Regions from separate parts of the Homo sapiens genome. Here region 1 is linked to region 2. Evidence: fine-mapped expression QTL. Tissue or cell type: prefrontal cortex. Region 2 holds a variant in brackets; the other region holds the start of a gene. All regions are shown on one strand. Distances are from middle to middle.

Region 1 (2,619 bases), 23 kb before region 2:
CCTGCTTTGGTGGCTCTTACTGGGAACCGCAGGCGATCTTCCTTTGGACACTGTCTCTGTTTATGCTAAAATTCAAGCTGTGTTGAGCTAATGCCTTATCTACCAAGATTGTGGAGGTCATGGATAAAAAGATACCCTGCAAGATGGACAGATACTCTGGTGAATAGAGTCCTTTCCAACTTCACCAAATTCACTCACCAGAATCATCCGCAGACAGTATTTTCAGAGCATTCCTGAAGTAGAGGTATTGTCATGGCGAGGTGCGGTGGTAACTGGGGAAAGGGCTCCTTAGCATGGTGTGCTGGTCACTGTGGAACAGCTGGCTCTCCAGGGGGAAAGAGCCCCGGGTCATAGCATTTGCTGATAAATATTCCCACCAGTTCACCTCACATGAATTGGGGAGCCTGGGCAGCGCAGACGGGCACTATCCTACCCCAGGTGGTAACTCAGTCCCAGGAGAGCTGTGTGGCCCTGCCCATGAGACTCCAGAGGACTCCAGAAGAATCCCACTGCCAGATCAGGGTCACAGAACAATGCCGGACAGGCAGAGCGGGCACTGTGCAGGGCCAGGGGGTCTGGGAGAGCGTCAGAAGCTGCTAGGGCCTGTCCTCCCGGAACTGGGCCACTGTGGGCCTTTCATCTCCCGCCTCCCTTTCCGCGCCACTCCTGCGGCTGCCTGCCTCTGCCCCTTCCCACCCCACCACCCCCAGTGCGGCAATTACGGCGCTAATTAGGCTGCTTTGATCATCTTTAGAAATGGCCACATTGGGGAGGGACTCTGCCAAGCAATTAGGGGCAGAGGGGTGGGGAGCTCCAGGGCTTCCTCAGGGGGTGGGGCTGCTGAGAAACCCCAGACACCCCCTGCCCTCCTCCCTCCAGGAGTGTCTGCCCCGTCATAGCTGTAAGCTCCTCAGGGGGTAGAGGCAGATGGGGATCCCCCCCCATCCCAGCCCTGGAGCCAGGGCCCGCCCCCACCCAGCAGCCCCCCTCTGCCTGGCCTGCAGCCCAACCGTCAGCCCTTCTTCCCTGTCTTGGCCCCTTTGATGGAGCCGCAGAAACAAGGGCTCCTTTGACAGAAGGGGGGCTCGGAGCTGGGATGATGAGACTTCAGAGGTGAAGGTCAAGCCCACTACCCCACTCCTCCCCCAGTCTTGGCCACCCTCCCGTGCACCCCTCCCCCAGGCTGTCCTCTATAAAGACCCTGCAGCCCCATTCCCCTGTGGGCTCCTAGGAGTTAAGGGCCAGGTGAGGGCTGACCAGGGAGGCGGGTAATTTTGATGTAAGAGAACGGGGTCAGATGATTTGAGGGACAAGAATTCAGTGCCCGGGGGCCGAAAGGCAGCAGAAGGCGGGCACCAAAGGATAGGCACCCGGAAGGTGGACTCCGAGGAGGAGAGAGGACAGGGGTCTCTCACCCCAGCTCCTGGTCACCATGCTGCTGGCTGTGCTGCTGCTGCTACCCCTCCCAAGCTCATGGTTTGCCCACGGGCACCCACTGTACACACGCCTGCCCCCCAGCGCCCTGCAAGGTAAGTCCAGGCTGGCCCGAGAGCCGCGGGGTTGGGAGGAATGTAGAGGAAGTGGGACCCTGGGCGGGCGGGGACAGAAGAGCTTGTCACCCCCACTCATAAGGACCTTTGGCTCCTTCTGCCCACCCTGCTGCGAGAAGGGGCCAAGAACTGAGATATAGGTGGGAGAGGAGGGGTGTGGCGGGAAAGGGAAGGGGAGCTGTTGAGCATGCCGAAAGGAATGGAGAGAAGGCCCCAAGAAGCAGAGAGAAACGGCCCGGGGCAGCACCCTGCCCTTGGCTGTCCCGGCCGAAGGTGGGCCACTCAAACACAGCTACTTTCAGTCAATAAAGCTGAGTTCTGCGATGTCTGTATCTTTGGGGTGGTGTCTTTAAAAAAAATTGTTAAGGAAAAGCACCTTTCAAAGATCCCAGTCCAGCTCAGTTGAATTAGGGAGACATCTTGGGCTGAGAACCTGGGAGCACGGGCTCTGAGTGCTGGGCCCAGCGTCCCCGGGGCTCACTTGCCTCCTCATTCTGTCCCAGGCTGGTGGGTCTCCCGAGGCAGGGCTCAGGGCTGGGGCCAGGAGGATGAGGCTGAGGCTCTTCCCCAACCACGCATGATTGTGTGCCCCCTGTCCCAGCAGTTCTGTCGGCCCAGGGGACTCAGGCGTTGCAGGCAGCCCAGAGGAGCGCCCAGTGGGCAATAAACCGAGTGGCGATGGAGATCCAGCACAGATCGCACGAGTGCCGAGGTGCCCACCCTGCCCCCCGTGCCCCAGTGAGCTTGCTGCCTACCCTGGGCCCATTCTGCTGCCTCTGTCCCTTCCCTTCAGTCTTCACTCTCCTCTTGGGGGCAGAGACTGTGTTGGGCCGCAACCTAGACTACGTTTGTGAAGGTCTGTCTCTCCGAGTGGAAAGGACACGCTAGGCTTGGGGCATGGCCTGTGCAAAGGCAGGGAGGCGGAAACACTCTGGGCTCCTGTGGTGACCAGGAGAAGTTCATGGTTGCTGAAATAGAACCCGTGTGGGCTGGAGGGCTGAGCGCGAAAGGAGAGATGGGGAGAGAGAGGCTCGGCCCAGCCTGGGGTGAGGACAGGCGAGAGGGCAGC
Region 2 (2,500 bases):
CCACCCGCTCACATTTAGCCTCTTTCCTCGGTGACTCCCAGGTCCCAGACTTACAGCACCAATGAGATTGATCTGCAGCTGAGTCAGGAAGATGGCCAGACCATCGAGTGGATTTTCATTGACCCTGAGGCCTTCACAGGTAACCCCCACCCAAGGGCTCCCCAGGCAGCCTCATCCAGGGCTCCTGCTGGACCCAGCTGTGGTCAAGGCTGGACCAAGGTCAAATCCCTCCCATGTAACTCAAAATGAAAACTACAGCAAACCATAAAATATGCTTTTTAAAACGTCCAACAAAGCTCTGACTTTCCTCATGATAATGTCTCCAATTTTAGAAGAGGCTCGAGCATCCAATCTCCCACCCCACTTCTGTCCCTCAAGGGTGCCTCCCCTGCTGGTGCTCCTTAGGGCACATGCTGCCCTTGCAGCTGGGTCACTCGGCTGCAGGGATCTGCCTAGCTCACGCTTCTTGTGCCCACTCCTGCCTGCCTGCCTGCCCGCAGAGAATGGGGAGTGGGCCATCCAGCACCGACCAGCCAAGATGCTCCTGGACCCAGCGGCGCCAGCCCAGGAAGCAGGCCACCAGAAGGTGGTGTTCTACCTGCTCATCCAGCGCAAGCCCCTCTTCTACGTCATCAACATCATCGCCCCCTGTGTGCTCATCTCCTCTGTCGCCATCCTCATCCACTTCCTTCCTGCCAAGGGTACCTGGAGCCTATGGGAAGGAGCCATCCAGTAGCACAGGGGACACCTGGGAGGCCGGGGTGGGCCCTGCCTGGGGAACAGAGTGGCATTACGACCCAGGACAGAGGCAGCGGGCTACTTCTGGGGTAAGGGGTTCCTCTGTGGGTGGGGGAGGTAGGAACCTGCTCTGAGAGCCTCTCGGTCATGGATAGCTGGGGGCCAGAAGTGTACCGTCGCCATCAACGTGCTCCTGGCCCAGACTGTCTTCCTCTTCCTTGTGGCCAAGAAGGTGCCTGAAACCTCCCAGGCGGTGCCACTCATCAGCAAGTAAGGCTGGTCTTCATGTCCACCCGCCTATGCCACTCTCCCTTCTTGGGAGCATGATGGCCTCCTGCATTGCCCTCTTGCCCTCCATCCACCCCCCCCATCCTCAATTCAGGAGGCCTGAGGGGGGGCAGCCACTAAG[C/G]GTGGGGGTGGCATCATGGTATGGGCTGCCAGCTCCTGCCCACCCCACCCTGACAGGTACCTGACCTTCCTCCTGGTGGTGACCATCCTCATTGTCGTGAATGCTGTGGTTGTGCTCAATGTCTCCTTGCGGTCTCCACACACACACTCCATGGCCCGAGGGGTCCGCAAGGCAAGGACCCTCCCTGCCCACTTCAACATCCCGCTGCCCACTCCCCTACGCCTCCCTCTCGCACGCCCCGGCAGTACTCACCTGTGGCATTCCACAGCACACCCATCCTGGGCGTATCTGGACGCATGGACCAAAATCGATTACAGTAATACAGGAATGAAATTGCTTCCTAGGTGCCCGGGATATTACAAATGTTAATGTATTTCATCTTCATAAAACCCATATCACCTCCAATTACAGATGAGGACGTTGAGGCGCAGAGAGGTTAAGTAACCTGCCCAAGGAAGTGCACTACAAAGTCGAAAAAGCAGGAGTCTGCCAGGGCAGTCTGATTCCAGTCTGTGTGATCTGTAGCCCACCTGCAGCCTTCAGCTTGGGCCCTTGTTGCACATGCAGATTCCCAGGCCTGTCCCAGGCATTCTAGGCCAGAATAGCATGAGGGCTGGGGGCAGGAATCTGTGTTTATAACAAGTGCCCTGGTGATTCTGATGTGCACTGAAGTTTGGGGACCCAGGCTCGTGTCCAGTATAGAAAGCTTTACCAAGGCCACGTCACTGCCCCGGTATGCTGCCTCCATGGTCCCTAGCAGCACAAGCCCTTCACGCCAACCTCTGGCTTCTGCTCTGAAGCTCGGCCTGCTGCCCTAGTGAAGCCACCCCCTCTCTAGGTGTTCCTGAGGCTCTTGCCCCAGCTGCTGAGGATGCACGTTCGCCCGCTGGCCCCGGCAGCTGTGCAGGACACCCAGTCCCGGCTACAGAATGGCTCCTCGGGATGGTCGATCACAACTGGGGAGGAGGTGGCCCTCTGCCTGCCTCGCAGTGAACTCCTCTTCCAGCAGTGGCAGCGGCAAGGGCTGGTGGCGGCAGCGCTGGAGAAGCTAGGTGAGACACACCAGGTGTGCCTGGGGACAGTCCTCCCCTGGGACCCCAGCTGGGGAGCCAGGCACAGCAGATGAGTGCTGGAGAAGTGCCCAGGTCAGGGAGAGAGGAGCTGGGGTCCCTAAGGAGAGGCCATCTTCTCTGCCTGTTTCTCCTCCATTCTACTCCCAAACCTTACCCTTTCTCTTTATCAGAGAAAGGCCCGGAGTTAGGGCTGAGCCAGTTCTGTGGCAGCCTGAAGCAGGCTGCCCCAGCCATCCAGGCCTGTGTGGAAGCCTGCAACCTCATTGCCTGTGCCCGGCAC

Direction of the effects. Alleles are on the strand shown, and positions count from the first base shown. SD is a standard deviation of normalised expression in the study named.
For the expression in prefrontal cortex of the gene that starts at base 1,222 in region 1, C is the high allele of the variant in region 2 and G is the other (moderate effect, 0.69 SD a copy in ROSMAP).

What was found. PIP is the estimated chance that this variant, and not a neighbour inherited with it, causes the effect.
Region 1: PRSS56 starts here. The variant in region 2 is fine-mapped to the expression of PRSS56 in prefrontal cortex (ROSMAP, PIP 0.95).

What each region holds. Positions count from the first base shown.
Region 1 is chr2:232,519,167-232,521,785 of GRCh38, forward strand. It overlaps PRSS56 (serine protease 56), which reads left to right and starts at 1,222. Exons shown (of 13, transcript NM_001195129.2): 1 at 1,222-1,529; 2 at 2,155-2,262. The coding sequence starts at 1,433.
Region 2 is chr2:232,542,382-232,544,881 of GRCh38, forward strand. It overlaps CHRNG (cholinergic receptor nicotinic gamma subunit), which reads left to right. Exons shown (of 12, transcript NM_005199.5): 6 at 42-139; 7 at 501-701; 8 at 894-1,008; 9 at 1,204-1,318; 10 at 1,986-2,199; 11 at 2,391-2,500. It overlaps TIGD1 (tigger transposable element derived 1), which reads right to left. Exons shown (of 1, transcript NM_145702.4): 1 at 1,502-2,500. Among named protein-coding and RNA genes, the nearest start is that of CHRNG, 3.9 kb to the left of the region's middle. The variant C/G (reference allele first, on the strand shown) is at 1,148.